Linked DNA regions of Homo sapiens. The protein of the gene in region 1 interacts with the protein of each later gene in a biochemical or structural test. Each region holds a gene or a part of one and is shown in the gene's direction. Other genes may lie near its edges.

What was found.
Region 2: the proteins of APBB1 (region 1) and WIPF2 form a complex in vitro, tested with the Homo sapiens proteins (one study listed by BioGRID).
Region 3: the proteins of APBB1 (region 1) and CCDC97 form a complex in vitro, tested with the Homo sapiens proteins (one study listed by BioGRID).
Region 4: the proteins of APBB1 (region 1) and PABPC1 form a complex in vitro, tested with the Homo sapiens proteins (one study listed by BioGRID).
Region 5: the proteins of APBB1 (region 1) and VASP form a complex in vitro, tested with the Homo sapiens proteins (one study listed by BioGRID).
Region 6: the proteins of APBB1 (region 1) and DHX15 form a complex in vitro, tested with the Homo sapiens proteins (one study listed by BioGRID).
Region 7: the proteins of APBB1 (region 1) and RBM17 form a complex in vitro, tested with the Homo sapiens proteins (one study listed by BioGRID).

The regions. Positions count from the first base shown.
Region 1 is NC_000011.10:6,412,336-6,416,645, reverse strand, and holds part of APBB1 (amyloid beta precursor protein binding family B member 1), read left to right. Parts: intron 1-4,310. UniProt on the Homo sapiens protein: Transcription coregulator that can have both coactivator and corepressor functions. Adapter protein that forms a transcriptionally active complex with the gamma-secretase-derived amyloid precursor protein (APP) intracellular domain.
Region 2 is NC_000017.11:40,274,601-40,278,910, forward strand, and holds part of WIPF2 (WAS/WASL-interacting protein family member 2), read left to right. Parts: intron 1-2,482; coding exon 2,483-2,584; intron 2,585-3,584; coding exon 3,585-3,625; 3' UTR 3,626-4,310. UniProt on the Homo sapiens protein: Plays an active role in the formation of cell surface protrusions downstream of activated PDGFB receptors. Plays an important role in actin-microspike formation through cooperation with WASL.
Region 3 is NC_000019.10:41,315,862-41,320,171, forward strand, and holds part of CCDC97 (coiled-coil domain-containing protein 97), read left to right. Parts: intron 1-522; coding exon 523-978; intron 979-3,712; coding exon 3,713-3,991; intron 3,992-4,310. UniProt on the Homo sapiens protein: May play a role pre-mRNA splicing through the association with the splicing factor SF3B complex which is involved in branch-site recognition.
Region 4 is NC_000008.11:100,715,039-100,719,348, reverse strand, and holds part of PABPC1 (polyadenylate-binding protein 1), read left to right. Parts: intron 1-1,068; coding exon 1,069-1,262; intron 1,263-1,460; coding exon 1,461-1,576; intron 1,577-3,747; coding exon 3,748-3,887; intron 3,888-4,310. UniProt on the Homo sapiens protein: Binds the poly(A) tail of mRNA, including that of its own transcript, and regulates processes of mRNA metabolism such as pre-mRNA splicing and mRNA stability.
Region 5 is NC_000019.10:45,513,572-45,517,881, forward strand, and holds part of VASP (vasodilator-stimulated phosphoprotein), read left to right. Parts: intron 1-4,091; coding exon 4,092-4,263; intron 4,264-4,310. UniProt on the Homo sapiens protein: Ena/VASP proteins are actin-associated proteins involved in a range of processes dependent on cytoskeleton remodeling and cell polarity such as axon guidance, lamellipodial and filopodial dynamics, platelet activation and cell migration.
Region 6 is NC_000004.12:24,542,888-24,547,197, reverse strand, and holds part of DHX15 (ATP-dependent RNA helicase DHX15), read left to right. Parts: intron 1-4,171; coding exon 4,172-4,258; intron 4,259-4,310.
Region 7 is NC_000010.11:6,102,152-6,106,461, forward strand, and holds part of RBM17 (splicing factor 45), read left to right. Parts: intron 1-2,779; coding exon 2,780-2,946; intron 2,947-3,989; coding exon 3,990-4,087; intron 4,088-4,310. UniProt on the Homo sapiens protein: Splice factor that binds to the single-stranded 3'AG at the exon/intron border and promotes its utilization in the second catalytic step. Involved in the regulation of alternative splicing and the utilization of cryptic splice sites.

The DNA.
Region 1 (4,310 bases):
GATGGATTGAACATAGCAAGTGCAGGAGAAGGACATGTCAAGATGTACCCCTACTTCAGATTCACAGAATAGGATGGATTCTATCATTCCATGAGCCGGGATCCTGAAAGAGGACCAGTTAGTGTGTGGGAGTGGGAAACATGAGTGGGTCTATTAGCTTGAGACATCCAAGTGGAGATGTTGAGTAGAAAGTTGAATGTACTTGTCTGGAGCTCAGGTGAGGGGTCTGAAATGGAGATTTGAATTGGGAAATCATCAGTGTATAACTGAAGCTGTGGGCATTAATGAATACTTATACTGATTATAGGATGAGAAAGAGGAAGGGGCATGAGAATAAGCCATAAGAAACTCCAGCAGGTAATGGCTAATAGAGGAAGATGAGCCAGCAGAGGAGTCTAGGAACCCAGCAAACAGTAACAAGAAGTGTAAAAGATGAGATGAGATGAGGAGTGTGGAGATGAGAGTGTGGAGGCCCCGGATAGAGGCTGGATGAGAGATTCACGGGGTCAGATGCTGCTGGGAGGACAACCAAGACGAGCACTGTGTCTGTTGGATTGAATGACACAGGGGTCATGTTGACCTTGGTAGGAGCTGTTACTGAGTCGTGTTGGGAGTGGAAGCAGGTTTGGAAAGGGTTGAGGAGTGAGTGGGAGGTGAGGAAGTGGCAACAGTGAGTGGAGACAACTCTCTCAGGAAGTTTGCCTGTATGGGGGAGGAAAGAGAGCAGTGAGTGGATCTGGAGGAGCGTCAGGTCAAGTTGGGAGACCGTGGATCCTATTGAGAAGGAGAGGTTGATCATATAGAGGAGAAAATAGATAAACAGTGGTATAAAATTCCTGGAAAGGCATCATAGGAAGAATCCAAATCATAGGTGAAGCAGTTGGTTTTGGGAAGGAGAGAAAGGGATAGGTGCTGAAGTTTGGTTAGGTTTTTATGTTTGAGGATGTTACCCAGTTGGATGGCTTCCCTTTCCTCTGTGAATCAGGAGGGGAGATCAGCCTCTGAGACGGGTGGCCAATGGAGAGTTATGTCCTAGTCTCAGGCAGGCCTTTGCTGATGTCTTGGCTGTAGTAAGCCCCAGGTTCCTGTAATGCCCTCCTCTTCCTCCTTCATGATATTCAGTCAACAAATAGGGAATGCTATGGGTGCCAGGCACTGTTCTAGATGTTGGTGTTACACTGCATTGTAACAAGTTGTTCAATGACTGTTTCCCGCTGAACTGAGAACTCCTCCAGAGGAAGAACCATTTCTTTTGTCTTCATCACTCTCCCCTGTGTCTAGCACAGTGCCTGGCATATGGGAAGCTGTCAGATTAGACAACTCCTGACTTTGAGCAAGACTCAACCCCAACCCCTGTGGTCTGATGCCAGGATCTTCAGGCTTAGTGACTACTTCTTTCACTTCCTGCCCCGAGGCCCCTGCCCAACTCCCTGCCTTGAGCCAGAACCCAGTTGGCTCTTTGCATCCTTTGGTAACTCCAATGAGAGGGGAGAGATTAGGTTGTGTTCCTTCTTTAAAAAATTGGACTGAGATCATCTTTTTGACCTCGAGCAGTGGGGTGTTGGTGACCACACCACCTCAGGCTAGATGCTCAGGCTTCAGCACTTAAACAGTTTCACCATTCTTCCTCTAATACTTCCTGCCCTGGTGACCAGATTGGCGGGGCTGCCCTGAGGTCAACTTGGCTCTTCACTGTTTCAGCCTCACAGTGCATGCACTCTTCTCAGATCATATCTCCTAGTGCCTAGGAGGTTGGTCTCTGCCTGACCTTTGAGAAACCTGGCTCTGTACACTACTGCTTCAGAGAAGGGTTTGCCATCCTTAAGGTCCTCTGAGCATGGCAGAGTCGTGGAGTCTTCTGCTTCCTGACACCCATGGAGATGCCACTCTTGAACAGTGTCTGTGCCAAGATGTTGGTTTAAGCTACCTCCCTCGCTCCCTTTTCCTAGATCTCAGCCCTCACCTCTCCAGGATTCCTGTCCCATCTTACTTCCCACTCAGGGACCCTTTGGCATTCTCTGACACCCTCCCAAACACTCCCTTTGCTCCTCCCCAGCCCATTGGGCCACACAGCCTTTCTTGGTATTTATTCCCAGCCAGTTCTGAGCTTCCTGGATCCTCCCACCCCCTGTGTCTGTCCCGTTCATCCGTCCTTTCCTTCTGCAACAGCCCAGTCTGTGTCGGCACACGGCACACTCTCTTTGGTAATGGGAATGTGAAATTGAATAAGACACCGTCTCAGATATTCTGATAGAATGTGGTTCTGGGTGTTGTGAGACACGAAGGAGAGAACAGTCACTTGATGGTGGGGAGAGAACAGGAAAGACTGCTTAGGAGCTGTAACTGCTGAGGTTAGTTTTGAAATACAAGCAGAGGTTCTCACAAGGGGAGACAGAATTCCAGGCCGAGGGAGCAGTATAAACAAAGACCCAGGGCTTTAAGAGTGTGCGACATGTTTCAGAATCCGCCACGCTTCATGTGGCTAGAGTATAAGGTATAAAGGAGGCGGGAGGTGGGGAGGGGACTGACAGGTTATAGAGGCCGGCTTAAGAGGGCTCTTGGGTGTCTGCGAACGAGTGCAGGCGTTATCCGAAAGGCAGTGGTGAGCCCTCTCATTTTCTGAACCAGGGAGTGACACAATCTGGTTTCCATTTTTGGAAGATTACTGTGGTTCTGGGAGGAGGTAGAGCTATTTTTTTCTTCATTTATTCCAGTGGCTGTGAGTTTTCTCATTGGCCAGGAGGAGTCACACTGAGCAGATCAACAGCCCCACGTGAGGCAGACACGTGCGCAGAAACCTTTTTCATCTTACAGATGTGTGGGTAGCATAGCACTAGTGTCTGAGGAACTAGAGACGTAGAAAGGTGAGCTATGGGGCCGGGCGCGGTGGCTCACGCCTGTAATCCCAGCACTTTGGGAGGCTGAGGCGGGTGGATCACCTGAGGTCAGGAGTTTGAGACCAGCCTGGCCAACATGGTGAAACCCTATCTCTACTTAAAAGAAAAAAAAAAAAAGAATTACAAAAATTAGCTGGGCGTGGTGGTGGGCACCTATAATCCCAGCTACTCAGGAGGCTGCAGGAGGTTGCAGTGAGCTGAGATCGTGCCATTGCACTCCAGCCTGGGCGCACCGCACCTGGAGAGATGGGCAAGCCCTGCTCAGGTAGCTGCAAGACCTGTGCTCAGCGCTGAGAACACAGAGGGAAGGGGGGTAGTGGTGAGTCAGGGAAAGAAAGAACTCCTTAGTAGAGGAACAGGGAGATAGGGAACTCTCAGATAAGACATCAAGGAGAAAGGTCTGTACAGTGGGAATGAGAAAGAGCACAGTGCAGTGTTTGTTGGGATGGTCAGTGAGGGAGAATTGTCTGTTGGGGGAAGGGTCGGGTAGGGCAAGAGAATCAGTGAGGCCATCGAGGGAGGAGAGAGTAATGTGGTAGGGGCTGTCTGAAGGAGGGCTTGCATGGAGGGCTCAGGATGAGAGAGAAGTGGGCAGTGGTTGGTCAGGGAGAAATAACTGAAATCGGGGGCTGGTGAGGGTCCAGGGAGAGAGCACTTTCTCTTGGGGGTCCGGGAAGGAGAGCAGCAGAGCAACTGGAAGGTCAGGGAGAGTGGGGAGGATGGAATGGGGCCGAGGGTGGGTCCCTGGGTGGCGGGCTGGAAGGATAGTTGGGACTCAAATGGTTGCGGAGAAACTGACCCACGAAGGGCTGTGAGGAGGCAGAGGGAGGGGTCTGGAGGGGGAGCTGTCCTTGCGGAACAGGACGTCCTCTTACCTGAGAGGCAGGTGGAGTTTGTTTGGGGCACCATAAGGCATAGTAACGTAACCAAAGTGTTTTCTGACACTGGCAGAGGAGATGCCAAAGCGAAGCCTGGAGGAAATGGGGACTGATTCATACATTCATTCAGCAAATATTAATGGAGTTCCTGCTCTGTGCCAGGACTACGCTAGGCACTAGGCATACTGTATTTAACCAAAAAGGCAAAATCCTCACCAACATGGAAATTATAAATTATAGTCATGAGGAGACAATCATTAGACAAAGTAAATAATAAATTGGCTTGTCAGATGGTGACAGGCGCTGGGGAAGAGTTTAGGGATTGCTGAGGAGGGGCGGAGGTAGCCTGTGGTTTTAAAATGGGTGTTCAGGGAAGGCTTCACTGAGGCTGTGACATTTGGTCAAAGATCTGAAAGGCTGGGCCGGACGCAGTGGCTCATGCCTGTAATCCCAGCACTTTGGGAGGCCGAAGTGGGCGGATCACGAGGTCAGGAGTTTGAGATCAGCCTGACCAACATGGTGAAGCCCCGTCTCT
Region 2 (4,310 bases), on another chromosome or scaffold:
GGCACATTGCCTGGAAAGAAAAAAGAAGAAAGAATGACAAAAAATATTAAAGAAAAAAGGATTGGGCGTGGTGGCTCATGCCTGTAATCCCAGCACTTTGGGAGGCCAAGGTGGGAGGATTGCTTTTAGCCCAGGAACTCAAGACCAGCCTGGGCAACATGGTGGAACTTCATCTCTCTAAAAAATACAAAAATTAGCTGGGTGTGGTGGCACACGCCTGTGTTTCCAGCTACTCAGGAGGATTGCCTAAGTCCAGGGAGGTTGAGGCTGCAGCAAACCATTGATCACATCACTGCACCCCAGCCTGGGCGACAGAGAGAGAATCTGTCTCAAAAAAAAAAAAAAAAAAAAAAAGTCGGCTGGGTGCAGTGGCTCACGCCTGTAATCGCAGTACTTTGGGAGGCCGAGGCAGGCGGATCACCTGAGGTCAGGAGTTTGAGACCAGCCTGGCTAACATAGTGAAACCCCATCTCTACTAAAAATATAAAAAATTAACTGGGCATGATGGCACGCAGCCATAATCCCAGCTACTCAGAAGGCTGAGGCAGGAGAATCTCTTGAACCCAGGAGGTGGAGGTTGCAGTGAGCCAAGATTGTGCCACTGCACTCCAGCCTGGGTGACAGAGCAAGACTCCGTCTCAAAAAAAAAAAAAAAAAAAAACAAAACCCAAAACATTACACACATTAATCCAAAGCCACTAACTAGCAGTGTTATTTTGAGGAAGTCACGTTACTTCTCTGGGCCTCACTTCCCTTATTTGTAAAATTAGGTTGACTAGATCAGAAGTGTATCAGATTAACTTTTCCAAGATTATAAATGTTGGGGGGGCTCTACCTAAGAGATTCTGATTCCTTGGTTCTGGGATGTAACCCTAAGTAAAGGTTGTCCATAGGCTATTGTTAGACCCGTCTGTTGAGGACCCTTGGAAGAAATCTCTGAAAGGTCCCTTGCAACCCTAACACTCTAGATTTTTTTTTTTTGAGATAGCGTCTTGCTTTGTCATCCAAGCTGGAGTGCAGTAGCGCAATCACGGCTCACCGCAGTCTCGACCTCCCAGGCTCAAGCAATCCTCCCATCCTTCAGCCTTCCAAGTAGCTGGGACCACAGGTGTGCACCACCATGCCTGGCTAATTTTGTATTTTTTTTGTAGAGATGAGGTTTTGCCATGTTGCCCAGACTGGTCTCAAACTCCTGGGCTCAAGCTACCCACCCACCTTGGCCTCCCAAAGTGCTGGGATTACAGGCATGAGCCACCATGCCCAGCTTCTAGATTCTTTAATGGTTGCTGTCCTTACCTACCCACTGTCCTCCATGTTCTAGTCTATTCCTATTAGGTATGCCAGGGTTTTTGCTTTAAAGATATATCCTTATTGTAGAAACCTTTGGGATGTGATCAAGCCGCACTTACAGAAAATTTGAGCTTTCTGATGGAGGGGCTGTAGAAAGTAGTAGTAGAAGCCATGAGATGGCTGTCCCAACTATGTAAGTGAAGGTAACATGGACTGAAAGGGAATCATCTGGTCAAATCTCTCACTAGTCATAGACAGATATTCCCATTTTAAATTAATTCCTACCAATTTCTGGATTTAGATCAGTTGTTTTCCCGTGGTGACAGTCTGTAAGATGTTATTAAAACCCAGAATTGGCTGGGCCTGGTGGCTTACGCCAGTAATCCCAGCGCTTTGGGAGGCCGAGGCAGGTGGATCACCTGAGGTCAGGAGTTCAAGACCAGCCTGGCCAACATGGTGAAACCCTATCTCTACTAAAAATACAAAAATTAGCCAGGTGTGGTGGTGCCTGCCTGTAATCTCAGGGACGCTGGGGCAGGAGAATCGCTTGAACTTGGGAGGTGGAGGTTGCAGTGAGCCAAGATCATGCCACCGCACCCCAGTCTGGGCAACAGAGTGAGACTCCGTCTCAAAAAAAAAAAAAAAAAAAAAAAGAATTATATTTCTTTCTGCTACCATGCAAACAACTGAGCTCCTTTCCTGTTCTGTGCCTGACTTGGTGGAAAGGTTTAAAGAATCAGCTCAGGCTAGGCGTGGTTCACACCTGTAATCCCAGCACTTTGGGAGGCCAGGTGGGGAGATTGCCTGAGCACAGGAGTTTGAGACTAGCCTGGCCAAGATGGTGAAACCCCGTCTCTACTAAAAATACAGAAAACTAGCCGGGTGAGGTGGTGGGCACCACTGCACTCCAGCCTGGGTGACAGAGCGAGACTGTCAAAAAATAAATAAATAAAGAATGGGCTCAAAGACGCACTACTTAGTACAGAGAGGTTTTGAATACATGCTCTGTGCATGCAAGGCACGTGGGGTGATGCTGCTGCTGTTCTCAGGGTGGTTGGTTTGGTGGGGCAGTAGGTCCTCACAGTACCTCAGAATGCCTGAGAGATTAGTAAGTGGGGAGGGTCGAAGCGATCAGAGGCCTGTGGGAGCACAAGCAAGGATGATAGGAATTAATGTTCTATTCTTTTCGCAGATGATTTTGAGTCAAAGTATTCCTTCCATCCAGTAGAAGACTTTCCTGCTCCAGAAGAATATAAACACTTTCAGAGGATATATCCCAGCAAAACAAACCGAGGTGAGAATAATAATAAGAAGGTTTTTCCATAATTGCATAGAATGTAGAATCTGTGCATTTTCTTAGGTTAAAATTTGCTTCTCGCTGGGCACAGTGGCTCATACCTATAATCCCAGCACTTTGGGAGGCCAAGGTGGGTGGATCACGAGGTCAGGAATTCGAGACCAGCCTGACCAACATAATGAAACCCTGTCTCTACTAAAAATACAAAATTAGGCTGGGCGCGGTGGCTTATGCCTATAATCCCAGCATTTTGGGAGGCTGAGGTGGGCGGATCATGAGGTCGGGAGATCAAGACCATCCTAGCTAACACGGTGAAACCCCGTCTCTACTAAAAATACAAAAGATTAGCTGGGCGTGGTGGCACACACCTGTAGTCCCAGCTACTCGGGAGGCTGAGGCAGGAGAACTGTTTAAACCCAGGAGGCGGAGGTTGCAGTGAGCCAAGATCACGCTACTGTACTCCAGCCTGGGTGACAGAGGGAGACTCCGTCTCAAAAAAAAAGAAAAAAAATTGCTTCTCATCATCTTCGTTGTCCTTTTTTTTTTTTTTTTTTTGAGATAGGGTCTCCCTATCGTCACCCAGGCTGGAGTGCAGTGGTGCCATCTCGGCTCACCCCAAACCTCTGCCTCCCAGGTTCAAGTGATTCTCCTGCTTAAGCCTCCCAAGTATCTAGGATTATAGGCGTGTGCCACCATGCCGGATTATTTTTGTAATTTTAGTAGAGACTGGGTTTTGCCTGGTTGGCCAGGCTGGTCTGAAACTCCTGACCTCAGGTGATCCGCCCGCCTCGGCCTCCCAAAGTGCTGGGATTACAGGCGTGAGCCACCTTGCCTGGCCACTCATCTTCATTTTCTTAGGCAAAACAATAATAACACGTAGTCCCCAGATTTTAAAGGTTAGCTTAAAGAGCCTGTCTCTCATTTTAGGAATGTGTGGGTTGTTCAGATTCTGGTGGGTGACCTGTATGTGTGTGGTCTTTATTTTGTTTTTTTTCAGCTGCCCGTGGAGCCCCACCTCTGCCACCCATTCTCAGGTGAAGCCTGGCTTGGTCCCGTTCCTCAGGAAAAGGATGGACCTTCTCTTCTTCTCAGATGGTCCCTTCCATTCCCCTGAAACCTGCATGAGAGCTCCTAACATGTTTCTCCAATGCAATCAAGCCCTAGACTCCAAATGTCCTCCCAGCTCACCTCCATCTATGCATCTCATCTCTGGATTTGGTGATCAGACTCTATATTGACAGTAGGATCTCAAACCCTGCATCCATCCTTCCTCCAGCAAGCCCTGCTAGCCACATGAGGAACAAGTTTCCGTGTCTTCTGCCTTCCTCTTGGGGAAAGGTGCCTTGTTGTGATGAATTAACTCACTGTTAGGGCAGGGTGGAGAATGGTACTCCTTCCTTCTCCTGTCCACTGTGGGGGAAGCTTGGCAGGTATATTATATTTCATCATTTAGGAGGCTGGCATGACCAGGACTTATGGGTGGGAGGGGAGCATTTTTAGTGAAGCAAGAAAGGAGTTTGCCAAGAAGTGATCTGTTTTAAAGGTCATATTTGGAGAAAGGGCAAGGAATTGGGTCTGCTTTATTTTTGGGGGTATTTTGTTTTTGTTCTCACCTGCTGCCCCCCCACCCCACCACCCCAGGGATAAATTGGATATAAACACTAAATACTAATCAGTTGAACTTAACATTTAATAAAAAGAAAGGGTGAAATAAACTGAAGAC
Region 3 (4,310 bases), on another chromosome or scaffold:
GGCAGGAGGATTGCTGGAGCCCTGGAGTTCGAGACCAGCCTGAGTAACATGTCAATACCCTGTCTCTACAAAAAATTTAAAAATTACACAGGCATGGTGGTATATGCCTGTGGTCCTAGCTACACGGGAGGCTGAGATGGGAGGATCGCTCAAGCCCAGGCGGTCAAGGCTGCAGTGAGCTGTGATTGCGCCCTGCACTCCAGCCTGGGTGACCGAGCAAGACCCTGTCTCGAAAATAAAATAAAATTGCAGCCTCCTCCACCTCTTCCCTCCTCCTTCCCTGTTTATTTTTCCGCATAACTCCAGGAAACACCTAACACATTATGTTTTCGGTAATTATGTTGCTAATTGTTTGTGTCCCCTACTGAAATGTCAACTTTTGCTCACTGTGGTTTCTCTAGTGCCCAGAACAGTGCCCAGAATATAGTCAGTGCCCAGTAAATGTGAGCTGAGTGAGTGACTAAGCCCCCAGTCCCTTCCCACACTCCCATCTCTGAACTAACCAATCTCTCCTTTCCTCAGGCTGCATAGAGCCTGGACCTGGGCACTGGGGTGAGCTGAGCCGGACACCAGTCCCATCTAAACCCCAGGACAAAGTGGAAGCAGCTGAGGCAACACCAGTGGCCCTGGACAGTGACACCTCCGGGGCTGAAAATGCAGCAGTGAGTGCTATGCTGCACGCTGTAGCCGCCAGCCGCCTGCCTGTTTGCAGCCAGCAGCAGGGTGAACCCGACTTGACAGAGCATGAGAAAGTGGCCATCCTGGCCCAGCTGTACCACGAGAAGCCACTGGTGTTCCTGGAGCGCTTCCGCACAGGCCTCCGTGAGGAGCATCTGGCCTGCTTTGGCCACGTGCGTGGCGACCACCGTGCAGACTTCTACTGTGCTGAGGTGGCCCGGCAGGGCACTGCCCGGCCCCGCACCCTGCGTACCCGCCTGCGTAACCGGCGCTATGCTGCCCTGCGAGAGCTGATCCAAGGTGTGGGGGCCAGATGGGCGACAGTGGGCACATATGGGGAGGGAGGGGAGACTGAGGCAGAGGGAATTAGAGAAAAGAATACAAGAGCAGAGACAGAGATCCTGGGAGAGAAGTTCTGAGACAGAGACAGGGACACAGGAAGAGACTGAGACAGAAATGTAAAGTAAGGGGGAGAGATAGACAGGGGTCCAGGGAAGAGAATGGGACAGACAATGAGAATAGATCAGAATTTAGTAGATGTTAGAAGTGGCATTTCAGATTGGTAGGCTGAGGACACAGTACACAGTGCTGTGATAATTGGTCATACCTAAGGAACAAAACATGAGATCCCTACCTCATACCATATACAGAGGCATCAGGGGAAACCAAAAGGAGTATGTACATGACCTTGGGGACACAGAAGCCTTCTGAACAAGACACACGGTGAAAACCATGAAGGAAAAAAAAGATAGCTTTTTGACCATGACATAATTAAAAGCATCCTTGTGACCACAACACCAGAACCAAAGTTAAAAGATGAGAGTGAATGAAGCAGAGTGAGTTAAGTTGCCGTTAGGGAGAAGGCACAAGTTATAGAGAGGTTCACAGAGAAAGAGAGAGAGGCTGGGCATGATGGCTTATGCCTGTAATCCCAGCACTTTGGGAGGTCAAGGTGGGTAGATTACTTGAGCTCATGAGTTCAAGACCAGCCTGGGCAACATGGCGAAATGCTGTCTCTACAAAAAATACAAAAATTAGCTGGGTGTGGTGGCGCCCTAGCTACTCAGAAGGCTGAGGTGGGAGAATTGCTTGAGCCTGGGAGGTGGAAGTTGTGTGAGCTGAGATCCCACCACTAAGCTCTAGCCTGGGCGATAAAGCCAGATCTTGTCTCAAAAAAAAAAAAAAAAAACACAGATGTGGAAATGAGGATGAAAACAGAAGGAAGATGGGCCGGGCACAGTCACTCAAGCCGGTGATCCCAGCACTTTGGGAGGGCGAGGTGGGGGTGGACCTGAGGTCAGGAGTTCCAGAGCAGCCTGGCCAACATGGTGAAACCCCATCTCTACTAAAAATACAAAAAAATTAGCCACATGTGGTGGCAGGCAACTGTAATCTCAGTTACTTGGGAGGCTGAGGGAGGAGAATTACATGAATCTGGGAGGTGGAGGTTGCCAAAAAAAAAAAAAAAAGAAGAAAGATGAATGAGGTGGGGGTAGGTGACAGAAACTGAAAAAAGCAGGAAAGATAGAAAGATGGAGATAAAGGAAGAGATGGAGAGAGATCCAGAGCCGGGGTGGGTGATAATCCAAGTTGGGGAGAAGGAGGGATAGAAACTGAATCTGCTAGAGGCTGGGCACAGTGGCTCAGACCTGTAATCCCAGCACTTTGGGAGGCCGAGGCAGGCAAATCACTTGAGATAAGGAGTTCAAGACCAGCCTGGCCAACATGGTGAAACCCCGGCTCTACTAAAAATACAAAAAAAATTAGCCAGGCACTGTGGCAGGTGCCTATAATCCCAGCTACTCAGGAGGCTGAGGCAGGAGAATCACTTGAACCCGGGAGGCGGAGGTTGCAGTTAGAGTTAATCGAGATCACACCACTACACTCCAGCCTGGGCAACAGAGCGAGACTCCATCTCAAAAAACTGAGTCTGCTAGAGGATGCCACAAACAGCTGGGGGTAAGATTGCTGGCAGGAGTGGGGAAGCTGAGCAGGACAGGGACAGTCACAGCCTATGGTGCTGCAGAGGCCAGGAGTCCGAGCAGTTTCTTTGCCCTGGACTCTGAAGACACGGCTAGGACCAGTGGAGGGGAGGGACCAGGGCAGGTTTAACTGTTATTTGAGGGACAGAGTCACTCGTGCAGAAACAGGCAGCCAGGGGTGATGCAGGGAACTCAAGTTTTGGGGTAGTGGGGAAGCCAGGCCCACCTGAGGGGTTGCTGCATAGAGGAGCACTCGAGAGAGGATGGATCTAGGGCCTTCCACCACCAGGAGGCTTTCCCAGGGATACACGGGCAGATGCCCCACCTGACCTGATCCCTTGCACACACATGCCAAATCCACGTGGATGTACACACATACACGCCCCACAGTGAAGGCGTGTCCACTGCCAGCCAGACTAGGGCCCCACAAACAGGCACACAACCTAGAGACACACAACTTCTGCTGCATTGTCCTGCATGCTGACACCCAGACAGACAGGTGTCTGTGGGCATATGCTGGGCCTCACAGGACATGTGTGTGTACATAGGCCATGTACACGTCCATGGGCAGGAGCTTGTGCATCGTGCCTGGACACAGTTGTACACGAGCTCCAGACCGTCAGAGCCTCAGAGGCCAGGATGTAGCCAGGTCTGCCCATGCACACACATGCTTGGATGCATGAATACATGAATACACAGGAAGATAGAGGCCGGGCCACATACACACACTCAGGTGCCTGCACGAGTAATCACATGCACATGACCTCAGGTGCCTGCATGAGTGCTTGCGCACACAGCTTCAGGCACCTGCATGAGTATTCACGTGCATGCCTCAGGCGCCTGCATTATTCACACGCACGCCTCAGGCGCCTGCATGAGTACTCACGCGCACCTCAGGTGCCTGCATGTTTTCCTGTGTTTTTGAATGTGTGCATACACACACTTGGACTGTGTATGCACATCATCCCACAAGCATGATCACACACATACCCACATGGACACTATCTGCTCAGTCGCTCACCCCATGCCCACCCTGTCTCTCCTCTGTGCAGGGGGCGAGTACTTCAGTGATGAGCAGATGCGGTTCCGGGCCCCCCTGCTATATGAGCAGTACATCGGGCAGTATCTCACCCAGGAGGAGCTCAGTGCCCGCACCCCAACCCACCAGCCCCCCAAGCCCGGGTCCCCCGGGAGACCTGCTTGCCCGCTCTCCAACTTGCTGCTCCAGTCCTACGAGGAGCGGGAGCTACAGCAGCGTCTGCTCCAACAGCAGGAGGAGGAGGAGGCCTGCTTGGAGGAAGAGGAAGAGGAGGAGGACAGTGACGAGGAAGGTGAGGGCCAGTAGCAGGAAGACCCCAGATTCCAGACACCCCAGCCCTAGGCCTGTCTGTCTCCACTTCATGGCAGCAGGCTGGGCCCCCAACCTGCAAAAGCCGACATTGCGTCCCTCCCCTGCCCAGCCTGACTCTCTGTGTATGCCCTTCCAACCGCTGCAGCATCCCCATCCCCCACTCTGAGGCACCAAATGAACCCTCGCCTCCAGGTCTGGACAGGCTGTTCCCTCCGCCAGGAATGCCTCTCCTCCCACCCTTCAGGTCTCAGATCCTGACCCGAGGATACAGTCTCCAGAGCACTATATGGTCATGTGTT
Region 4 (4,310 bases), on another chromosome or scaffold:
AACAGCTGATTATCACTATATTCTAGAAACTGGAACTTTCATTTATAAAAAAAGAGGTGGCCGGAAAATTCATCCTGTCAATAACTTTTAAATTTACATTGGCATGGAATTTGTAGGAATTGTTTCAGGGCTTAAAAGGGACCGTTTTCCCTCTCTTCGGGGACTAGTCTTTTTATTTAAGGATGTGTTATTTCATTTAGAGCCTTTAATGGTACAGGTATACATAATTCAATCCTTTATAGATCCTGAAATTAATTGTAGATTTTGAAATTTTCTAGCAGTATTCAGAAATAACTAAATCAGTTGTTAAGAAAATCAGCGATCTAAAGTGAAATTGATTGTATGTGTCAAGAGAGCGTTAATGGTGATTTCTGAATATTGCAGACCTGGTGTTTTTAAAATTCTGTGATTATGAAACCAAATATGTCTAACTTCACATTAGCTTTTGAAAGCATGATTCAAATCTTGGTCTAGCCTTTCATTTTCTTAAATGGAAGTTGTGCCATGAATCACTGAAACCCTCCCTCCCCCCAATAATTAAGAAACTTTCATTTTTTAGGAAATGGACTAGTTTTCATATAATATTGTTAGTTATTAGCAATGAAATGACCAATTTTAGCAAGTAGTTGGGAAGAAGTTAAAATATTTAAATCTATAAACTACTTCCAGCTTGTAGATAAATCTGTTGCGTAATGTCTTTTATACTGCTTATTAAACAGATTGTATGTGAAGGAATTTGGATTTTGATAACTAGGAAAAAAAGTGCTTTAGATTTAATGGCAATTAAGGCGAGAGATTGCGTCAAGAATTTATTAATTATTAGCAATATGGAATTCTTTTATATGTGAGAAATTTCGGGGGCTTCTGGTATTTGTCTTTGCTTTATACAACTTAGGTCCCACACTAGTGTGTGATACTTGAAAGGTCTAGCCATCTTGAAGCTTAAAGAGGAAGCGTTCAACTGTGAGACCATGTGTCCTCCCACTCCAGTCACCATAGTTTATATAATCTTAAGTAGCCAGCAAAAATTTTGAAGTAATATTGACTCTGAAAATGTCCTTCCTGCAGCGGAGCGTGCTTTGGACACCATGAATTTTGATGTTATAAAGGGCAAGCCAGTACGCATCATGTGGTCTCAGCGTGATCCATCACTTCGCAAAAGTGGAGTAGGCAACATATTCATTAAAAATCTGGACAAATCCATTGATAATAAAGCACTGTATGATACATTTTCTGCTTTTGGTAACATCCTTTCATGTAAGGTAAGCCAAAAATGTCCGATACACATGTTTACATTGTTGAGCTACATTTAGTTTAGTGCTTGAAATAGGAACTGTGCAGTAATGGATATCTTTATTTCACAAATATCCAGGTTAGATGGCTAACAGATTGTCTCTCAACACTGAACAAATGTTAAATCAATAGCAAATAAAGAAAAATGGGTATATGTTTTTCCCTAGGTGGTTTGTGATGAAAATGGTTCCAAGGGCTATGGATTTGTACACTTTGAGACGCAGGAAGCAGCTGAAAGAGCTATTGAAAAAATGAATGGAATGCTCCTAAATGATCGCAAAGTGTAAGTTATAAATATCTAGCTAATCATATTTTGAATCTTATTTTTAATAATTCCAAATCCATTCATTTTAAGTTAATATTTGTCAGGGAGAAGTTAGATGCACATAAGATAAAAGAATAAAAACATTTTAAAGATGAATAACAAAAATTCATGTAGTTGTACTGGAGTGAAAATTAATAAGCTAATCTTGATTTTTACAATTGAATTTTCTACACAGTAAGTGTAACATACAAATAACAGGTTTAATATAATTAACATTCATGCCAAAAGGAAAACAGAAGATAAGTAAACAGAAAAATGTAGCTTTTTCAAAATGAGTGCATTAGTGAAAAATCAGGAATTCAGACAAACCTAATATTCATAATTCTTGAGGTACTGGTTAAATTAACCCATTTTATAGGTGAGGAAACTCAAAGTAATTTGCTTTTATGTACTGTAAAATGAGAGACATACATTACTCACAAGTCCGGGCGCGGTGGCTCATGCCTGTAAATCCCAGCACTTTGGGAGGCCGAGGTGGGCGGATCACCTGAGGTTGGGAGTTTGAGACCAGCCTGACCAACATGGAGAAACCGTCTCTACTAAAAATACAAAATTAGCTGGGCATGGTGGCGCATGCCTGTAATCCTAGCTACTCGGGAGGCTGAGGCAGGAGAATCACTTAAACCCGGGAGGCGGAGGTTGCAGTGAACCGAGATTTCGCCATTGTACTCCAGTCTGGGCGACAAGATTGAAACTGTCTTTAAAAAAAATAAATAAATACTCACAAATGCCTGTTACCAGGGCTTTAGGAGGAAAAAAAAGCAAGCCCAACACTGGCAGGATCCAGAAAAGAATGATATGTTGCTGTTTTGAGTAAAAGTGATATAACTCTTTTGGAAATTTGTAACTGTCCTAAGAAGAAATACACAAAGTGTCTTTCATAAAGTTTCAGCTTTACTGCAGTGTGCCTTTATTCCCAGCCACTGGGAAGCTGAGGCAGGATGCTTGAGCCAAGGCTGTAGTGTGTTGTGATTGTGCCTGTGAACAGCTATTACACTCCAGCCAGGGCAGAATAGCAAGACCTTGTCTCTTAAAAAAGTTGCAGCATTATTTACAAAGCAGAAAGTGATGGTCACAATGAAATACGCTCCCTTTGAGAACATTTATGAAACTAATAGCATAGCGAAGACCAACCATATTTTGTGGAGAGATAAGGAAATTATTTTTATTTTACTTTTTATTCTAAAGCTGGGTTAGAGATAAGGAAATTTAGATGACTAGGGTGAGATTATGTAAGATGGTTTTTCCTTCTGCTTTGCTGTGTATTATAATATGCTATGACACATGTGCTACCTTTTTTTCTTCAGTGATCGTTGTTCTTTTTATATTTTTGAGACATGGTCTTGCTCTCTTGCCCAGGCTGGAGTGCAGTGGTGCAATCTACTCACTGCCACCTCTGCCTCCCGGGTTCTAGCAATTGTCGTGCTTCAGCCTCCCAAGTAGGTGGGATTACAGGTGTACACCACCACACCCAACTAATTTTTGTACTTTAGTAGAGACAGTTTCACCATGTTGGCTAGGCTGAACTCGAATTCCTGGCCTCCAGTGATCATCCCACCTTGGCCTTGCAAAGTGCTGGGATTACAGGTGTGAGCCACTGCCTAGCCCAGTGATCCTTGTTCTGAATTACTACTGTTATATTCAGAAAAAATTAAGTTTTAGTGTCATTTTGTTGAAAATGCTGCAGTTATGTCAGGCTGTTGTGTGTTAGAGTACACGATTGGGAAGTTTAAATTTTTATTCTAGGAGATGGCAAAGAAAGCGCAAGCGCCACTTTAAAATGACGATGAAAGCTTTTTAATTTGATAGAGGTCTTTTTATTGGCATGGTACACATGCACTTCCACTCATTTGTATTGATGGGAGTGATCCCTTTAACCCTAGGTTAGCTAGAGAAGAGAAGTGTGTATTAAAAGAAGTGGTTTTTTTTTTGTGATTGTAGTTAGAGGCTTATTCATATATTTCATGGTGTCATATCTTAAATTATGGCCCTATTTCTATTTTGTAGTGTGCTTTTTATTAGGGATTCTGAATATTCTCATTAACAGTAACAAAACCAACCATCAGGCTTACTTAATCTGAACTTTATAAAATAGAATCTAATGTTATAGTCCTTGTATATCTTATTAGATTTGTTGGACGATTTAAGTCTCGTAAAGAACGAGAAGCTGAACTTGGAGCTAGGGCAAAAGAATTCACCAATGTTTACATCAAGAATTTTGGAGAAGACATGGATGATGAGCGCCTTAAGGATCTCTTTGGCAAGTTTGGTAATGTGTCTTAATTAAATTTTTACACACAAAGCTCTGAATTAGTGCTCAGTGTTAATTTTAGCTATTACTTTATACTAAAAAAGTCAATAAAATTAGACTTACATGGTACTTTAAAATATTTGTGGTTATTTGAATTAAGCTGCTGGCCATCTATTACACTACAAAGTAGTATAATGCAAATAAATAGAATTCTATCCAGGTTAAAGGTTAATAGCATTAGATTAGCACAGTAAGGTATGACTAAGTAATTAGAACAGATTTTAAAATATTTTACTACATTAAGAGGCTGGAGATATATATGTGTGTGTGTGTGTGTGTGTGTGTGTGTGTGTGTGTAATTAGAGATCCCATGTCATCAGAAGCATATATTTGACACAGCCAGCCTACAGTGGAATGCAGTCTCATAGAACAATAAAGCTG
Region 5 (4,310 bases), on another chromosome or scaffold:
ATTCCCCTGCCTCAGCCTCCTGGGTAGCTGGGATTACAGGCATGAGCCACCATGCCTGGCTAATTTTTGTATTTTTAGTAGGCATAGGGTTTCACCATGTTGGCCAGGCTGGTGTCGAACTCTTGACCTCAAGAGATCCACCTGCTTTGGCCTCCCAAAGTTCTGGGATTACAGGCATAAGCCACCACACCCAGCCTTCCCAAGCCAATCTCAAACTCTTGGGCTCAAGTGATCCTCCTGCCTCAGCCTCCCAAAGTGCTGGGATTACAGGCGTGAGCCACCTCCCCTGGCCAAAGTTTGCCTTTTTTTACAGATGTTTCGTAACTATTGAGTCCCTACTATGTGTTGGACGCCATTCTAGGTTCTGGGGACACAGCAGTGAACAACTGGGACACAAATTTCTGCCTTTTTGGCAGCGGAGACAGACAAATATTGTGTTGGGCAGGGGTCACTGCTATGAAATGTGCAGCAGGGGATGAAAAGGAGAGAAGCGTTTCCAGCTAAGGGAGTGAGGGACGGCTTCTTGGAAGGGGTGACATCTAAGGAGAGACCTGAAAGTGGGGAGAGGCTAGGCCTGAGGAAGAAGCAGCACACAGGCCCGAGGCAGGAATGTGTCTGGCCTGCGGGAAGAGCAGCATGGGGGTAGGAGGTCTAGGGTCTGGAACAGAGTCCCCAAGGGACAGTGGAGCGGGAAGAAATGAGATCTGAGGACACACAGATCACGGAGGCCCTGGAGAGAACTTGGCATTGATTCCGTAGGAGCCTGGAGCCTTCAAGAAGAAGAAGAGACATCCCACCTTGTAGGTTTTTGTTAGTTTGTTTTGTTTTTTAGAGATGGGGGGTCTCACTGTGTTGCCCAGGCTGGTCTTGAACTTCTGGACTAAAGCAATCCTCCCGCCTCGGCCTCTCAAAGTGCTGGGATTACAGGCATGAGCCACCGTTCCCCGCCCCACCTCGTGTTTTAACAGGATCCTTCTGTTACAATGGGTATAGTGTTCCCTGGAGAGGGGCAAGACCACCCCTTGGTCACCCAGCAGGCGCCCTGTTCTCCGGCCAGTCCAGAGCCTCAGTAGGGCAGGGCTGCCTGGGAGAGCAAAGTGCAGCCAGGGCGGGGCAGCAGCAGCCCCGGGCTCCTGGCCAGAGTCGGCCCTGGGTGTGGGTGGCAGGTGTGGGTGAGGCCGAGGCCTTAACCCTGCCTTGCCAGGGGCAGCAGGAGCCAGAAACAGCCCCCGAGGCTGTGTTTGTCTGGAAAGGGCACCTGGTGTTTGGGTGGGGCCCACACAGTTCCCGGTGGTTAAGGCTTGGAAGCCTGAATTCACATCTTCACTCTATTCCTCAGTAGCTGTGTGACTGTGGGCAAGTCACTCAACCTCTCTGGGCCTCTAGTCCTCACCTGCAAAATTAGAATGAGTGGCTCTCTGGATAAGCTGCAGTGAGAATAAAATGAGTGACTTTGGGGGAGGGGCTTAAGGCCCCTGATCCACCTGAAATGCCTAGTAAGAGGGAGATGGCACAATTAGGTAAATTTGAGGGTCCCTACCCCAGGTCCCTACCCACAGCTGAGTCTGCCTAGGGACTTTCCCTGCCCTGACTTCCCAGCATCAGTGTCACACCCAGCCCCCAGCCCTCCTAGAGACAGAGGCTTTGCGGGGGGTGTCTAATTTCTGTCCCCGGAAACCTCTGACCACCAACTTCCCCATTTCAGGAAAAAGCCTGGTGTGGGTGGGGTGGGGAGGAGACCAGTGCTTCCCCTTCCCCTGTGTGACCTTGGGCAAGTCACTTCCTGTTTGAGTTCCTGTCTAGGCCTGAGTTTCCTCACTGGGGGAGAGGGGATTGAACCTCCCAGAGGGGCTGGTGGGAGGGTCCCGAGGGTTGTAGCTGTCCCGGGCCCCAGTGGTGCCCATGAGAGGGATGTTGACAGTTACTGAGCTCTCGGCGTGTGCTGGACGCTGTACCAAGCACTTAGCTTTTTTTCTTTTTTTTGAAACAGAGTTTCACTCTGTCGCCCAGGCTGGAGTGCAATGGCGTGATCTCAGCTCACTGCGGCCTCCACCTCCTGGGTTCAAGCGATTCTCCTGCGTCAGCCTCCTGAGTAGCTCAGACTACAGGTGCACACCACCACGCCCAGCTAATCTTTGTACGTTTTTGTAGAGACGGGATTTCACCATGTTGCCCAGGCTGGTCTCGAACACCTGAGCTCAAGCGATCCATTCACCTCAGCTTCCCAACATGCTGTAATTACAGGCGTGAGCCACCACACCCGGCTGTACCAAGCCCTTTAGGTGCCCAGATTCATGTGCCCCTCCCCCACTGCCCTGGAGGTGGGGACTGTCATTTTCCCAGTTCACAGGCAAGAAGAGGTCTTGAGTGGGAAGGTCATGTGCCTGAGTCACATGAAGTAGGTGGCTCAGTGGGGATTTGAACCCAGGTCTGGGGATATCAGCTCCTGAACTCTGCACCAGTTTACTGACACCTCCCACCCAGGCTAAGTCAGACGTTGCCTTTTCCAGGAAGTCCTGCCTGACTCTCCAGGCTGGGGCAGGCGTTCCTTCAGGGTACCCCCAGACCCTGGGCTCCTTGGTCCTAAACCTGGGTTGGTACCGTCTGGGGACAGCTGTGTCTCCCACACTGGACTGTGAGCCCCAGGAGGGTGGTGCCGGAGCTGTCTGGGTCACTGCTGTGTCTTCATCCCCAGCCCCACCCAATATAGGCCAGACACAGAGCAGGGAGTATCTGGGGAATGGCCGCTAGTGCCCTGGGGAGCCAGGCGAGGGGTGGGCAGCGGGAAGTCCCTTTGGAGGAAGAGCTCAGAGGTCTGGGATGGGTCCCCAACCTGCTGCAGGCCTCACACTTCCCCTCCCAAGCCTCAGCTTCTTCCTGAGCAGGCAGTGGTGGAGGGGGGTGCGTAGAGATAGGGAAACTGAGGTCAGGCAGGGGCTGGTCCCTAGTGCAGCTCTGGGCTCTTGGCCTCCTTCTGGCCCCTCTGTCTTCCCTCCTGCCCTCTGCTCTGCTAACCCGCATCCCCCCACTGGCATTGGCCTCGGCCTCTTACACCCCTCAGCCTGTCTCTCCATCTTTATCTTTTCCTTCTTATTAGTTTTGTTGTGTTGTGTTTTTTATTTTTCATTAAAAAAGTTTTTTTGTGGACTGGGTGTGGTGGCTCACCCCTGTAATCCCAGCACTTTGTGGGGCTGAGGCAAATGGATCACTTGAGCCCAGGAGTTCGAGACCAGTCTGGCCAACATGGTGAAACCTCGTCTCTACTAAAAATACAAAAAATTAGCTGGGCTTGGTGGTGCATGCCTGTGATTCCAGCTACTCAGGAGGCTGAGGCGGAGAATGGCTTGAACCTGGGAGGCAGAGGTTGCGGTGAGCCGAGGACAGCCCGGGTGACAGAGTAAGACTCTGTCTCAAAAAAAAAAAAAAAAAAAAAAAGATTAGTCGGGTGTGGTGGTGCATGCTTGTAGTCCCAGCTACTTGGGAGGCTGAAGTGGGAGGATCGCTTGAGCTCAGGAGGTCGAGGCCACATTCCAACCTGGGTGACAGAGAGCAAGACTCTGTCTCAAAAACAAAAATAAAAATAATAATAATAATTATTATTATTAGAGATGGGGTCTCACTATGTTGCCCAGGCTGCTCTGAAATGCTTGGGCTCAAGTGATCCTCCTGCCTCAACCTCCAAAGTGCTGGGATTACAGGTGTGAGACACCACGCCAAGACCATCTTTATCTCTTTCTGTGTCTGCCTCTTCCTCCAGGTCCCCTGTCTGCCCATCCTTTTTCCCCACCCCTCCCCCATCTGTTCATCTGTCTGTCTGCCTTCAGTCTGTCTCTCCTCTTTGTCAACCCGACTCTCCCTTTCCCACCTCTCTCTGCGTCTGTCTCTTGCATCTCGTTTGTGTGTTTGCCTGTCTCTCCTGATCTGATTTTCTCTCCTGATCTGTCTCCCCCGTCTCCTTCTGTCCACGTGGCTCCTGCCTCCCTCTGTGTCACTCTCTTCCTTCCACACACTGTCTTTGTCCCTTGGAATCTCCCAGGAGAGACCCAGATAAGAAGGTGACCGGCCCCTCTCCCTTTTCCTCCCGCCTGCAGCGAGACGGTCATCTGTTCCAGCCGGGCCACTGTGATGCTTTATGATGATGGCAACAAGCGATGGCTCCCTGCTGGCACGGGTCCCCAGGCCTTCAGCCGCGTCCAGATCTACCACAACCCCACGGCCAATTCCTTTCGCGTCGTGGGCCGGAAGATGCAGCCCGACCAGCAGGTGCAGCTTCCCGCCGGCCCCCTCTGTGGGCTGAACCCCTACCCGCC
Region 6 (4,310 bases), on another chromosome or scaffold:
GGAAATCATGTTATCCTTGCCTTGAGTCAATTTCATCTTAGAGGTTGAGAAAAGCACTGATGTAGCTTCCCTGGACAGTCCTAGGGAGAGTAAAGGAAGACTTCCTTGGCAGTTGCTGCATCATTTTCATTATGAGGAAGAACATTCTGAGGCGCAGCATGTTAAGCACAAATTTAAAGTTTTCATACAAGCCTGGCTTATAGAGGAGGGATCTATACAAGTTTTACTGTTCATATGTAATTTTAAACTTACTGTTTGTGTCTAATTGTGAAAAAATATTTGATTTTTTTGTTAAACTGTTCTAATATAAGGATAGTAGCTAGCATAAAGCAAATATATAAAAGTTGAAAGTTTTTGAACAAATATAATACTTAATACAAATTTTAATTTCCATCAAATTAATTGTGATTCTGTATAACTTTATATTTGAGTCCCTTTTATAAGGCAGTGCCATTTCTTATTTCTCTATTAGTTTATGAAAAATAGATTTTATAACTTGATTGTGGTACTAATAAAAAACAGCCTTTTAAACATGTTACAGCACTAATGGTGAACGATTTCAAGTTTTTAGCAATCAAGAAAGGTTGAGAATGCAACATATATTTATATGAGGGTAAATATTTTTACCTCTTGATAATTTTTGAAGTTTATTCAAGTATTTGACTAAGTTAAAAGTTACAGTAATTCTTTACATGCATTCAAGTTTACTCTTCAGTAGATAACTTCTGCATTTTTTGACTGAGACTTAAAATTGCTATTTTGTGGATTTGGTTGTTATTAAAATACAACTATAATTATTTTTTAAATATTTAGTGTTCATTAATTTTGTTCATACAAATAGCTGACTTTTCTATAGTTGATCCTACATTTCGCTGATTAATATGGTTCAGAGCATACATTGCTCAGTGAAAAAGAGAAATGGCCCTTGTGGAGATGGTCCTGTAGTTTTAAAGAAAGACTTAATGATCCAGGATCTGAAGATAGCTTACTGTGGTGCTGCTGGGATGTTTATAAGCAAATAAGTTGATGTCCTTGTGTTGGAGACCACCACAGAGTTCCCTGGGGACTAAAAGTCCAAATTAGTTTAAATGCATTATTGTGTCCAGACAGTATTCAGGTAGGGCAAATGAAGTACTGCGAGTTCTACTTTGAAGTGGAGTTATTGGGGGCGGAGTGGGGGGAAGTGGTTCTATTAGAAAAAAAGTGAGTTCTATTAGAAGGCAGGTTATTGAGGGAGGAAAATTTACTCTTAGCATGTCCTGACAGTGATGCCAAGCTTTTCACCATAGGGTCTGTTCCATATTAGTCAATGCGGTTTGAACACTTTTTAAGGCTCTTTGAACGCTTACTGCAGTGTTGCAGTCTAGAAAGCATGTAACAATTATATTGATTCTTACTGGTCATAATGTAAATCCCTTGACAAATTCAAGGTCATTTTGTCTCCTGATGGGTTCCTGGTTGTATGGTGTGCCATTTACAATTAGAACATGGTTAGGGCTTGCCTCACTCAACTGCTGAAGTACCAAAGAAGCTTTTATCTTGTCATTTATTAGTTCGCTTTTGCATTGTGTGTGTGTGTATTTAGCCTTAGCTATTTTTAGTCCTTGAGAAAGGCCTAAAACTTGTGCTTTTTTGTTAAGGACTCAATTTAACACTTGTATTTTAGGGTTTGACTTTTGGCTGGCAATAGGCTCTTACTAATATCAATAATGACGAGGGTTTGCCAAGTTGGCATAAATCATTTGATTCTTAAACACTTGCAGAATCATGTATCCGCGAATTGTTAAGTATTACAGAATTTAATACACTCACCCAGACAAAAAACATACACACAGGATGAAATTATTTTGTGGAGAAAAATTAACTTTTTATAATGGTAACTAAAGAGTTGGTCACATGAGAAATTTTTATCACATTGTATTATGTTATAGAAGAAATATGTGAAATGTATTTTTTCCCAGAACAACTTTTTTAAAAGTGATTTTCTTCATAAATATTTTCAGAACTATGGTTTTCACCCCAGAATTCCAGAAAGCCAGAAGACGTCTTCTGTATTTACAGGCATGTAGTTGGTTCTGTATAGATTTGAGATAGGGTCTCAGTCTGTTGCCTAGGGTGGAGTTCTGTGCCATGATCATAGCTCACTGCAACCTGAACCTCCTGGACTCAAGCAGTCCTCCCACCTTAGCCTCCTCGGTAGCTGGGACTACAAGCATGTGCCACCATGCCTGGCTAATTTCTTTTATTTTTTTGTAGAGGTGGGGTTTTACTATGTTGTCCAGGCTTGTCTCAAACTCCTGGACTCAAATAATCCTCCTTGGCCTTTTTAAGTGCTGGGATTACGGATGTGAGCCACCATGCCTGGCCTATTCTGTATAGTTTATAGAGCATTTCCACATCCTTACATAATTTATTCCCTACAACCCTGTGTTATGTAGACTAAGTAATATGCAAGTTATAAAAGGAATACAAGCTTGGGGGTGTTAAAACCTTTCCAGTTACTTTAGCCACTCAGGTTTGATTGCTAGGTCTGCCAGTTACCTCTAAATTCATCGCTTCTTTAACTACAAGAAACTGACTTTCTAGAATATTAAATGCCGGTTATGCTTATTCAAGTTTCACCTGTTAACCTTATGTATGTCGTTGTTTGCTTCAGTTCTAGTTGCTGATTATTTTTCTAAATGTCCTGAAGAATGTATTTCAGCAACATCATCAAACCACATGTGGTTTCTTATTCCTTTGCTAGTTGTCAGTCTTTTCAACTGACAAAAGGAAACATTTTGGTTTTTGACTTGTAAATTATTCTGAAATACCCTCTTGGTAGATTGCTATTATGTTTTTAAATCCCTGAGGTTTCCTGTTAGTATTTTGGGAAGTCTACTACTTAGTAAATATGAAATCAGAAAATGAAAGTGTTAATATTAAGTAAAATAGTTAATGCAGCAAAAGCCTATGATTTTTAAAGCTATTTGATTTATAAAATTAAGTGTTTTTAAAATAAAATAGGGATAAATATAAATCTTTTCATTTTTTGTATGTGCCCATAGGCATTTCTCCCACATGTGTTTTTTTAAGATGGAACTTTAGTGCTAGTGCTGTTTCCTTCTCTCATGAGTAGGTCTTAACCTTACCGTCAAGGACTGTCCTAAATGCTATTATTTTTCAGTAAAGCTTTTCTTGACTTTGCTATGGAAGTAAACCTTTTTAAATTTCACAGTGTGTCTTTGGTGCCACTCACACTTTCTATCCATGTCTAATCATCCCTTACAAATGGTAAAAGCAGACTCTGTTTGATTCATCTTCTGTATCAATTGCTTGCATATACAGACATCTTCAACTTAATATCAGTAACCTGTTCCTGAAAATCATGTCCTGAGTTAAAATACTAATGAGGAATCCCCATTTCCCATTGTTTAAAAAAAAATTATATGTAACATGTATTTCCCAAGTCCTTAACTAATTTTCTAAAACATATGTAATATATAGTAAAACATGCACGTATACCAAACAAGCTATCATATTAGTATGTAAATGCTTTAAACATTTTCCGTCAATAAAGAATTATAGTTCTTAACAGTTGCTTTGTATGTAGTAACGTATTACATGTCATCCCGTTGAGACCATGCACTTACCGAAATATTTACATTTGATTCTGCTGATCTGTCCATTCTTACTGGATTATAACTTGAGTTTTTTTCCATGTGGCATTTTGTTTAAAATGTTGAGTTGAATTTTGGTGATATAAATAACGAAGTTTTCATTTGTAAATATTGCCCAAAAACATTGAAATATACACTTGTGGAAATTTGAATACTAATTATAAGGGCTGTTTTATCAGACGTTTTGTAAGGCACGTTATATTGCTTCATCAGTATTTTTCTTTTTATGCTGTCCATTAATTTGATTAAGCAAAATGTAATGCGGTTGAGTGATAACCTGAAGTAATAGCTTTGTTGAGAAAGAAGTTGCTGTTGTGGTGTAAACAAAATTTTGGTTCCTTAAATATTAATTTACCTTTTTAAAGCATTGGCCATTGAAGATCAAATGATATTTCTAGTTTATTTGCTGGCTTGAAATTCCTTGTGTCAGTGAAAGTTAGTGGCTGATCTTTAACAGTCCTGTTAATTTTATTTGATATGTAATATAATTTATATACTCTATTTCTTAACAGGTAGTTGTGTCAACTAACATAGCAGAGACGTCTTTGACAATAGATGGTGTGGTGTTTGTGATTGATCCTGGATTTGCGAAACAGAAGGTACATATTTAGTGGATACTTTATAAATTAGAGTTGGTTTAACAGTACTTAC
Region 7 (4,310 bases), on another chromosome or scaffold:
TGGTCATTTAAACAGCATCATGAATTGCACAAAACCGCTTGATGAAAAATGACCAAAAGATTAATAATAGTGCTATCGAGACAGTTTCTTAGCAAGGCGCGCCTGTCCTCCCCACCACCTGTGGGAAGGGCTGCATCAGGCTGGGGCAAAGGGCACACTCCTGCCCATCTGTTTCACGTCACTGTTCTGGGTTGGGCTCCGTCTCCTGCCTGTCCTGCTTATGTTCTGGGCCAGTCTGTGGCTGCAGCTTACCCTTGAGTTGTCCTTTTCTGAGGGGAGCGGGTGCTGTTCCTGAGGGCTGGTAGTTCTTCTGGAGGGGAAGCACCACATGGTGGAGGTGTTTTTTTGCTGATTCCTAGTCATTGAGCATTTTCCCCCATAAATTTGATACCTAGTTTATTCCTGCTACATCTAATTTAAAAACTGGTTCATAGTTTCTTCTGTAATCGTGTATTGGTTCTAGTACCTATAATATTAGTCTCCTATTTAATGAGTAAGCCTTTTTCCTCCTTGTTACATAGTTTTCACGATCAGTTTTTAATTCTCATTAAGCGAATGCATCATAATTTACACAAGTATTCCCTAACTGTAAAACCACCTAGATTTGCTTTTACATTGCCTTTATAAATACCACTCTAATGAACATCTTTTTGTGGTTTTTATTTTTGAGACAGGGTCTTGCTCTGTCACCACGCTGGAGAGCAGTGGTGCAATCTTGGCTCACTGCAGCCTCCTCCTCCTGGGCTCAAGCGATCCTTCCACCTCAGTCTACTGAGTAGTTAGGACCACAGGCATATGCCACCACATTTGACTAATTTTTTGTAGAGATGAGGTTTCACCATGTTGCCCAGGCTAGTTTTGAACTCCTGAGCTCAAACGATCCACATGCCTTGGCCTCCGAAATTGCTGAGATTACAGGCATGAGCCACTGCACCCGGCCCTCTAATGAACATCTTTACAGAGATGTTTCTATGTAATTAGGGTTATTTTCTTAGATTTTCTGAGGTGGCATTAAGATATCAGCCATTTTTATGGCCAATCTGTTCTGGCACCAGTTTACTCCCAGCAGTGCACAGTATCACCTCAGGCATATGAGGGTGAATTTTACCCCATCCTCCCCCCTCAGCATTGAGGGTATTAACATTTTAATTTTTTTAAATTGAACAAATCACTTTATTCATTGCAGCATTTAGAAAAGGATGATTGATTTCATTGTTAAGCATAGCAGGGTTTATATGTAAAAGTTTTTTTCTTTGAAATTTTGAAGTGTCAGAGAATGAACCTTCATATTGACAGTTTGTTCTCTTAGACACGTTGTGATAATTGTGTTAGATAAATTGAGTGGCTGGTTGTCATTTTCTCTCTAAATAATAACTGAAAAGAAATCTTCATGTGCTTTTGTATTTTTTAAATGTCTTTTATAAAATGAATACAAATGTATAACTAACCTTTAGGAGCCCTACATTAAATACATTTTCCAGTGGGTAGGGCCTGGGAGGTGATTATAGTTATTTTCCTAATTGCTCTTATTCATTGGATCATAGCATTTCCTGATATTTCGTCGTAAGGAAATGGTGAAGTGTTTGTTTTATAGTGCAAAATGTCACACCGAACCATGAAACACAGGAACTGTTCGATTTAGGTCTGTTAATATGGCGTGTAAGCTGTCTTGATTTTGTCAGTTCTGTGTTCAAGCAGGAAACACGTTTACAAACGACCTTCTTGCCTTTGATACAGTTGGACATTGTACCTCCTGTAAGAGGTACAGACTGGGCGCTCAAGGACATGAATCCTTGTTGTTTTGCATGTGTGTTTTAAAAAAAATGGGGACACTAATCCTAACCTGTGCTTGTTTGAGGTGTCTTTCAAAACCAGAGAAGGCATCTTATTGTTACAGATAATAACGAAGAATTATGCTAAGAACACTAACAGGAGAAAGTGTGGGAAGGTTTAGGAAAGTGGGGTCAGGGCTTCCAGCACCACGTGTAGACCGAGGCTGCCAGCCTAGGGTAAAGTTCTGTGTCTGCTCATGTATTTCCTAGTATACTGGCTGTGCTCTGCCTCTCGTTTTGCTAATTTCTTTGTCATGGCTACCTCTTTTCTTTCAAAGAGTAGACCAAGTTTCTGAATGTATAGACGAGAAAACACGAAGTGTTATCTAAACCTGATTTTAGTGAACCTTAAAAAAAATTATGATGCTGGAAGGGACATTACATCCCCTTGTGTCAAACTCAGTGCCTGAAATGCAGCCTACCTGGGAAGGGACATGTGTTCAGAGGATTAGAAAGACCAAGAAGATGCTTTCTAAGATCTCCATATATTCTTATCTCCATGTAATCAGAATCTGAAGTTATTCTGTTAAAATGATGACTGCAAGAATGATTGTGGTGTTCATGGTTGTTTTATTTTTTAAGTTGTCATAGAGATCTATAAAAACAAGTATTCAGTGCTTTACTATAAGTATTCTAATTTTTTGACTCAAAGTACTAGTAACTTATATTTTAGCTGGTGGTGGCTTATTTAGGAATTCCAGGAAAAATGCCATAGAGTATTATAGAAATAGTACTAATCTAAGAGGTGAAATTTTGTGTCCTGTTTCTGCTACCACCTGACTAGGCACGTGGCCTTGTCTGGTATTTGTTTTCTTTGTCTTTAAAACAGAGGAAGGGGCTAGATGATGTTCAGAGTCCTTTTATCTCCCATACGCTTTGACCTGAATCCTGTGAGTAAACTGGTAAGATATAAAGAGGATTCTTACTGCTGTTTTTACCTTCCTCAGGATCCTGTTCCCAGTGGGTTTTCTGCAGGGGAAGTTCTGATTCCCTTAGCTGACGAATATGACCCTATGTTTCCTAATGATTATGAGAAAGTAGTGAAGCGCCAAAGAGAGGAACGACAGAGACAGCGGGAGCTGGAAAGACAAAAGGAAATAGAAGAAAGGGAAAAGTAAGGCTTCCTTTGGATTTGGGGATATTTTACAGTTGAAATGTTCATTAAAATGTTAACGAATGAGCGTCGCTGCTGTCTGTAAGGCTGAAGTTAATTGTCATGGGTGATCTGAGCAGTCACTACAAGGAATCAAACTGTTTTACGATTTGTACCTGTTACATCTCAGAATCACAGCAAACTTCACCTGTAGACTGAAGACCTAAAGTGTATATTTTGAGTGAGTTGTTAGAAAAATAACTTATAAACCTGATGTTGAAAATTTTTTTCTATGCTGATACTCTGCTATAGGTTGACTATCCCTTATTCAAAAATCCGAAATCTGAAATGCTCCAAAATCTTTTGAATGCCAACATGCCGCTCAAAGGAAATGTGCATTGGGGGATTTTGGCTTAGGGATGCTGAACTGGTAATTGTAATGCAAATATTCCAAAATTTGAAACACTTCTGGTCCCAGGCATTTGGAATAAGGGATTCTCAACTTGTAAAATCACAGCTATTTAAAGTACTTGAAATATTCTTCTTAACTTTACTATTTTTGAGCCAGGTGGAATTTTTAAAAATTCATATGCAGCTTTTATTTATGTTTTTGCAAAGTACGAGTAGTAGGATGTATTTGTAGTTCTTTTTAAAAATATTTAGTATTATCAAATAGTTAACATGTATTAAATATTAATATACTGTTTCCCATTTATTGAATCATTTCATGAGTGAAAGTGTTATAGACTATTGAAATGATTGAACTATTACTATGTTGATAGGCTTTAACATTGGAAGAGGTCAATGTCAAGGAACCTTTTTTTTCATGCTGGTTGCTCTCGTATACTTATTGGTTCAATTTATCTCTTGAATTTTTCTCACTTTTCATACTTTTATCTACTTTAGTCTTTTACCAGTTATGCTTCCTACCCCCTCTACCCCTGCAACTTCATAGTTGATTGTGACAGGATTTGGATATCTTCTGGTCAAGAGGAAGTCATCCCAGGTTCAGGTCTCTAAATTGGTTCATCTGTGATGAACATTTATTTCCTTTGTTATCACAGAAGGCGTAAAGACAGACATGAAGCAAGTGGGTTTGCAAGGAGACCAGATCCAGATTCTGATGAAGATGAAGATTATGAGCGAGAGAGGAGGAAAAGAAGTAAGGCATGAACAAATATGTCTTAAACATATATAAATACTGGAAGTGCAATTCCACTATGTGCTTTTTCTTTTCAGTTTGATAAATAGTTCATTTGACATTGATTTGGGTAATTTTCTTTCTGGAATCCCAGCAATACACATTTGCGTCACAGTTTTAATTTATATTGGGTTTTCATATGTATTTTCCTTTGAGCTTCACAACCACTTTCTAACATTTATTT